Linked DNA regions of Homo sapiens. The protein of the gene in region 1 interacts with the protein of each later gene in a biochemical or structural test. Each region holds a gene or a part of one and is shown on either strand. Other genes may lie near its edges. The genes, in order: RNF139 and UBE2G2.

Evidence for each region.
Region 2: the proteins of RNF139 (region 1) and UBE2G2 form a complex in vitro, tested with the Homo sapiens proteins (one study listed by BioGRID).

Annotation. Positions count from the first base shown.
Region 1 is NC_000008.11:124,477,771-124,481,583, forward strand, and holds part of RNF139 (E3 ubiquitin-protein ligase RNF139), read left to right. Parts: intron 1-3,813. UniProt on the Homo sapiens protein: E3-ubiquitin ligase; acts as a negative regulator of cell proliferation through mechanisms involving G2/M arrest and cell death.
Region 2 is NC_000021.9:44,798,872-44,803,226, forward strand, and holds the start of UBE2G2 (ubiquitin-conjugating enzyme E2 G2), read right to left. Parts: upstream 2,950-4,355; 5' UTR 2,878-2,949; coding exon 2,835-2,877; intron 2,528-2,834; exon of another isoform or gene 2,413-2,527; intron 1-2,412. UniProt on the Homo sapiens protein: Accepts ubiquitin from the E1 complex and catalyzes its covalent attachment to other proteins. In vitro catalyzes 'Lys-48'-linked polyubiquitination. Involved in endoplasmic reticulum-associated degradation (ERAD).

The DNA.
Region 1 (3,813 bases):
AAATTTAAATCCAAGGCAGAAAATGCAAGCCTAGGAGTTTGTTTTAATAGTATTACTAATATGGTGATAATTCATTGAGGTGGGAAAAGGCTTTAAACATAACAGAAGACCCAGAAGTTCCAAGGAAAAATCTGAAAAATTTCAGTACATAAAAATAAAAAGCTTTTTTATGGCAAAGCTTAAAAAAGAATCCTTAAATGACAAACTGAGATAAAATACTTCTATCATAAGTGATTCACGTTCCAGTAAGAGTTTTACCCTGCCAGGGAAGCTGAGGCAGGAGAATCGCTTGAACCAGGGAGTTGCAGGTTGCAGTGAGCCGAGATCGCTCCACTGCACTCCAGCCTGGGGATAGAGTGAGACTCTGTCTAAAAAAAAAAACAAAACAAAACAAGAAAAAACTTATACTCCCTTAGGAAAATGCCTAAGACAAGCAATTCACAATAAACAAAATGCAGATGTTCAATAAGCAAGAGAAAAAGTATTTAGCCCTTCCTGCAGTAGCTTGATTTTATGGGGGAAAAAAAAAAGTACCTAGCCTTGTTTATAATTAAATACTGTCAAGACCGCTTACGGTGGCTCACGCCTATAATCCCAGCACTTTGGGAGGCTGAGGCAGGCAGATTGCTTGAGGCCAGGAGTTTGACACCAGCTTGGCCAAATGGCACAACCCGTGTCTACCAAAAAATTAGCCGGGTGCAGTGACTCCTGCCCATAGTCCCAGCTACTGTGGAGGCTGAGGCACGAGAATCTCTCGAATCGGGGAGGTGGAGGTTGCAGTGAGCCAAGATCGCGCCACTGCACTCCAGCCTGGGCGATAGAGCGAGACTGTCTCAAAAAAAAAAAAAAAGTCAAAAAAAATTTATCAGATTGGTGAAGAGTTCAAAGTTTTATTAGTTTTGCAAAGGTATTTACCTTTTTGAAATAGGTAAATTTATACAATTTTGGAAGACTTTTTTTTTTTTTTGAGACGGAGTTTGCTCTTGTTGCCCAGGCCGGAGTGCAATGGCGTGATCTCGGCTCACCACAACTTCCACCTCCCAGGTTCGGGCGATTCTCCGGCCTCAGCCTCCCGAGTAGCTAGGATGATTACAGGCAAGCGCCACCACCCCCGGCAAATTTTTTTCTATTTTTAGTAGAGACAGGTTTTCTCCATGTTGGTCAGGCTGTTCTCCAACTCCCGACCTCAGGTGATCTGCCCACATCGTCCTCCCAGAGTGCTGGGATTACAGGCGTGAGCCACCGTGCCTGGCCCGGAAGACTCTTAATTTCAGTGTAAAACCATTTGGCAGTATCAACTGTCATTTACAACTGACTTCTCAGTGTTTTGTTTTGTTTTTGAGACAGTCTCACTCTGTCACCAAGGCTGGAGTGCAGTGGCGTGATCTCAGCACACTGCAACCTCCACCTCCCAGGTTCAAGCGATTCTCCTGCCTCAGCCTCCCAAGTAGCTGGGATGCCTGGCTCGTACAACTTTTGACTCACAATTTCAATTCTAGGGAATTGGCCTAGAGAGATAGTTTGCTTAAGGACTATGGGCAAGCATTACTGGAAATAACAAAGCAACAAACTTAATCTAAATATGTATTGATACAAATCTGTTCATTGTATTAGGTCTAGCCATGCAATAAAGTTCTTGAAAGAAATGAGATAGCTATTTTTGGTGCCGAAAAAGACTTCAGAAAACCTCTGAAGTGAAAAAACAAAGCCGAAGTAATTATCACTGGCAGAGGAATAGACAGAGATTTCTCAACAGTGGCAGTATTGACATTTTGGACAGGATAATTCTTTGTTTGCGGATGGGAGCTCTCCTGTGCACTGTAAGATTTTTAGCAGCATCACTATCCCCTGCCCATTAGATGCCAGTAGCACCTTGCACCCCCACACCCCAGTGTGACAGCCAAAACTGTCCCTGGATATTGCCAAATCATGGTTGAGAACCATTGGGATAGACAAATAGATTAGTACTTAGCCTTATTTATAATTACATAGCCCAGAAACAGACACCAATGTATATATAGAAATAATGTGTTTCAGAGATAGAATTGAAGTACATTGAGGTAAATATGGACTGTTGAATTAATGATCATTTTGTTACACCTTTGGAAATAAATTATACTAGATGTCTACCTTATGTCAATATATAGACAGTCACTTCTAGGTTGAGCAGTGTAGTGAGACCCTGTCTCTGCAAAAATAAATATTTAAAATAATAGCCATACTTGGTGGTGGGTGCCTGTAGTCCTATCTTACTCAGGAGGCTGGGGTGAGAAGATCGCTTGGGCCTAGGAGTTCAAGGCTGCAAGTGAGCTATGATTGCATAACTGCACTCCAGCCTGGCTGGGTGACAGAGCAAGACCCTGTCTCTTAAAAAAAAAAAATAGTCATTTCTAAGTGTATTCTTACCTAGATGTATATGTAAATATGAAATGCAGAACTTTAAATTTTTAGAAAAAAATATGGAATATTTTATTTTTCCAATCTTAGATTAAGGAAGAAATCCTTAAAAATATATAAAAGCAAATACATAATGAAGATTGATAAACCGAATGATATTGAGGTTAAAAACCTATGTTAATCAAAAGATCGCACCACTGCACTCCAGCCTGGGCAACAGAGCGAGACTCCATCACTAAAAAAAAAAAAAAAAAAAAAAGGAAGTCAAATCTTGGGTAAGGGGGAACTACTGTACTTACATTTACCCATTTATTATAAAGGCAATTACAAAGGACACAGATGAATTAACCCGATGGAAGGAGATGTACAAGGTGAGACAAAGAAGGAGAGAAGAGGAGAAGGGGCGTGGAGCTTCAGTGTTCAGCTATCTGAGAGCTCACAGAACTCAGTCCTTTTGGGCTTCTATGGAAGTTCATTAAATAGGCAAGATTGATTAGATCACTAGTCATTGGTTTATGGACTCAAGTTTCAGCTTCTTTCTTCCCAGAAGTGGCGGCTGGGGGTAGGAATCAAAGTTATAACCCTTAATCACTGGGCTGATTCCCCTGGCTACCTAGCCCCCATCCTGAAGCTATCTAGGGGCCCCCAGGCACCAGTCATCTGATTATTGTACAAAACAGTCATCACTCCAGAGATTCCAAGGATTTTAGAAGCTATGTCAGAAAATGGGACAAAGACCAAATATTAATATTTTTTTTATGATATCACAGATGGGAAAGACAAACTAGAAAAACTTGCTTTAACTCTTCATTTAACACCTCTCTGTAGGGTTTGGCTTTTTAAAATCCATGTTCATATATTTTTGATAAAAGCATACTTATTATAAGTTTAGTTTAAAAGCAAAAGTTTAATTTTGTGTTAATACTTAGAATACCAGGTTTTTTTTCAACCTAAAATGAGAATCCAATAGAAATGTTTTCTTTATAATTTATCAAGTATACCAACAGATTAACAACATTTCAAGACACTTTGTTGTAAACTTCATTGCGGAAGGCTCCCTTGGGAGTAAGGTAGTAGTAACATTTATTTCTGTGCTTTTCCATATTTATTCTGTCAGGTATTGAAATGTTTTTCCACAGGTTGCTTTTTGTTTTAGAGGTATTTCGGGTACTTGGAGAATTGTAAATATTATGTTTTGTACCCTGATTTTTAGTCATAAGTTTCCAAAAGAGGGTAAGGGTATGAATAGACTTTACACATAAAAGAGTGAAACACTTTGTTATGTAACATGTATAGTAAGTTTTTATTTTTTCTTTTGTTTTTATTTGCCTGTTTTTGGTAATCCAAATTGAAAAGGCCTGAACTCTTTCATGAGTTGAGTTCATATATAGTTTCAAAGTTCCTGAATTGATTTGG
Region 2 (4,355 bases), on another chromosome or scaffold:
CCCAGATCCATCAAAGAAATCACTTTTCATGGCAGCTATGGCCTTATGAAATGTATTTCTTAAATAAGTCAAAAGTGCTCCCGGATCCATGGGCTGCAGAATTGGTGTTGTGTTAGCAGGCACAAAAACATTTATCTCCTTATACCTCTCCATCAGAGCTCTTGAGTGACCAGGTGCACTGTCAGGAATAGTATTTTGAAGATAATCTTTTTTTCTGAGCAGTAGGTCTCAACAGTGGGCTTATATTCAGTAAACCATGCTGTACACAGATGTGCTGTCATCCAGGTTGTTTTTCCATCTCTAGAGCTCAGAGTAGATTTAGCATAATTTTTAAGGGCCCTAAGATTTTCTGAATGATAAATGAGAACTGGCTTCAACTCAGTCAACTTAAAGTGACCGACATTAGCCCCTAACAAGAGTCGCCCTGTCCTTTGAAGCCAGTCATTGACTTCTCTCTAGCTGTTTACGTTGTATATGGCATCATCTCCTCCCAATACCGTATAAGGCTATTTTACGTACCTTGTAAATCTATTGCTTAATTTAGGAGCCACTTTCATCTTGATCTTAGCTAGATCTTCTGGAGACCTTGCTGCTTCACCTTGTGCTTTTCTGTTATGGAGACAGGTTATTTACTTCAATCTCATGAACCAACCTCTGTTAGCTCCCAATTTTTCTTCTGCAGCTTCCTCACTGCTCTCAGCCTTCATAAAACTGAAGAGTTAGGACCTTGCTCTGGATTAGGCTTTGGCTTAAAGGAATGTTATGGCTGGTTTGATCTTCTATCCAAACCACTAAAACTTTCTCCATATCAGCAGTAAGGCTTTTTCACTTTATCATTCATTGTGTTCAACAGAGCAGCACTTCTAATTTCCTTTAAGAACTTTTCCTTTGCATTCACAACTTGGCTAACAAGAGACCCAGCTTTCAGCCTATCTTGACTTTCAACATTCCTTCCTCACTAAACTTAATCATTTCTAGCTTTTGATTTGAAGTGGGTAGAGTGCAACTCTTCACTTCAACACTTGAGCCCACTGTACAGTTACTATTGGCCTAATTTCAATGTTGTTTTGTCTCAGGGAAGAGAGAGGCCGGGAGAGAGATGGGGAAACAGCCAGTCAGTGAAGCACACACAACATTTATTAGGACTACCATCTTTTATGGGCATAGTTTGTGATGCCCCAAAATAATTACAATAGTAACATCAAAGATTACTGATCATAGATCACAGTAATAGATTAAAATGTAAGAGAGAGACACGAAGCGAGCAAAAATGGTGCCAACAGACTTGCTTCCATGCAGGGTTGCTTGTAAAAAACTTGTAAACTTGTAAAAAATGCAAGATCTGCGAAGTGAAGCTCAATAAAGCAAAGCGCGCGGGAAACTGAGGTGTGCCTTTATGTTCTGCTTTAGCAGACACTAGGTGGCGAGCGTTATTTGAACGTTTACAGGAGGCCCTGTGTATCTGCGGCTGCATATCCATGGATTCGACCAACCAGGAATACAAAATATTTGAAAAAAATAACAATAAAAAATGACGATTTAAAAATACAAGTAAAAAAAATCAGTGTAACTATTTGTGCAGCACTTACATTGCATTAGGTACTATAAGTAACCTTGAGATGATTTAAAAGTTATGAGAGGCTATGCATACATTAAATGCAAATACCACGCCACCTTATAGTAGGGACTTGAGCATCCGAGGATTCTGGTATCTGCAGCGGGGCCTGGAACCAATCCCCTCCAGATACCAAGGGAAGAATGACCATACGTGAGTGAGCCTGTATTTGCAACGTTTTGGTCTGCTTAAGCCAAACATCAACTCTTACTGGGCGGTGTCACCAATAGTTTTACGAAATCAAGCTACATGTATATTCACCACTTATTTTTTTTCTCACATTCATTCTTTTAGCTTAACTTTCTTCCAAAATTATCCTCAATCTAATTACAAAAGCAGCAGCTAACTTTATTAAGGGTTACACATCAGGTATTTTGCTAAGCACTTCACCTGCAGTATCAAGTTTAACCTTTTAAGACAAGGAAACTGCAGAGACAGAGAGAGGAACAAGGTCAAAGAGCTAACAAGCAGAGAGGCCGGGTCTGAACTCAGGCCCTGCTCTTAGCCGGCTACTATCTCGTCTCCATCGGCGACTCAGGCTCCTGGCGCTTTCAACACAATGGTATTCCAAGACTTCTCGCAGCAGTTCTTCCAAGCGGGCATTCGGTGTAAAACGATGGAATGCCGAGTGTTCCTAGGTTCTCATTTCTCCCTTCGCTCTCCTCAGACATTAGAAATATCTAATTTACCGGGTAGGAAAGCACTCAAGAGGTTTCCTCAACACTACCTAGGAGGAGTGACAGGTGGCACTGTTCAAAAACCCTTTTCCTTCATTAGAGGGAAAGCCAAAATCTGACCTTTCAAAGCTCCACCAACGAGCCTTTCCCCTTTTAACGCATACACTTTTCCCTCCTAATTCCGCAGCAGCAAGTCAGGCCTTCTTCCTCAAGCTCTCACTGCACGTTCTCAAGGCTGCCAAGAAAAGAAAAAATAGAAGAGAAAAAAACAAGCCCGCAAAGACTCAACTGTGTGTGCTCTCAACTAACACGGCGCCGGCGCTGCCTTTACTGATGCTGGGAAGGCTTCTCTTCACGACTTCACGCGTGAGAGTGGGCAGCGGGCGCAGGGCGCGGCACTCCGCGGGACCCACAGGGGGGCTCACGGTGGAGGCCCCGGGCCCGGCTCCCCCGCCAGGCTCCCTGCCCCAGCCCCGCCGGACGACGCGGGCCCGGGAGCAGGAACGCGGGACGCTGCTGACGGCCCGGGTCCCCAGACTCACGTTTGTACTCGGCCATCAGCCTCTTGAGCGCGGTCCCCGCCATGGCCCCGCAACAGCTGCGCCGAGCGACCTCGCCTCAGCCGCGCGCGTGCCTCCTGCCCCGACACCGGGGACTGCTTCCGGGCCACCGTCGCGGGCCCAGGAACTCTTCCGGGGCGTGGCGCGTGCGCGATCGCCGAGGCGCGCTGTCCGGGTGGTGGGAGCTCAACCCGCGACCGCGGCTACGATTCTCTTGGCTCCTGCCCTCGCCTTAGTCGCTCTGCGGGGTTGGTTCGGTCCCGGCACTTCCAGAGGCCTCAGGGTCCTGGTCTTGTAGAGACTTCCTGAACGGTGGCGCCTGTTCCAGTGTGTGTGCGCTAACTGCCTGTTCTGTGCCAGCCGCGCGTGGCCGAAGGGCGGGAGGACGGGGGTTGTGGAGGGGAGGATGGAGGTTGGGGAGACAGGGCGGGGACGAGATAAGAGGTCGGGGGGTGGGGAGGATGGTCGCGGGGCGGTCTGGGGCTGGAGACAAGGGGCCTGAGGTGCGGGTACGCACTGAACATTCCAACCGTCCCCAGCCGGCCGGGTTTCAGGTTTGAAAAGGTGGGAAGGTTAGCTGTCCTGGCGCTTTTCCTCCACGTGTTGTGCGGCTCCGCTGGAGTTCGGGTCCAGCACCTTCTACTCCGAGGGAGAGAGCCGCGGGGAGAGCCCTGTTCGGGCCCGCGGCTCGAACTGACCGCCGGCTCTGCCGAGCAGCCTCGACCCCAGGGCACCCCCGGGAGAGAGGGCGCGGCTCAGGTCCCTGCCCGAACCCCTGGGGTGCTGAGAGACTCCCCAGCGCCCCGCGTGGGCTCCCGGCCTCTCCACAGTTGAGGATCCTGTAAGGGGCGAGCCCTTTTTCCCATAATGGCTGTAGTGAGTGGGTGTGCTTTCCCGATTGACCCGCTGTGAGGTGAGCGATTTTAACCCACATCCTTACTGACTTCACAGCACAGTAGGTGCTTCGTGGCTGTCCGGTGCAAGGATGTATATACACACACACCTTTGCAAAAAAAGTTTGCATCTCTTGCCTGGCTGTTTGTTGCAATAATCTATCATTTGTCTTTTCCTTTCCAGCATTGCAGATGATCCCTTGAAAAGAAGTCTGATCACATTCACACTCTGCTCCGCCCATTTCACTCAGTAAAGCTGAAGTCCTGCAGTGCTTTGCTCTGCCTCCGGTCACCCCGCCATACTCCCAGACCCTCCCTCCCTCTCACTCCACTCCAGCTGCCCTGGCCTGGTTCAGAGTCCCTGACTCTTCCCTCCCCGGAAACACTTTCTGGCGGCTCTTGTCCCCGACTCTTCCCACCTGCTCTTTCAGTCTTTGCTCAAATGTTGCCTCTTCAGTGTGGCCTAGGCCGTCACCACCCGGCCTTCACCGCATACCTTTTTCTCTGCAACACCTACTCAACACACCGTACTATAGAACTTACTGGCATGCTATAAATGTATTACCCTTATCTGTTGCCTCTAACCAAAAGCGTGTTCCATGAGAGCCAT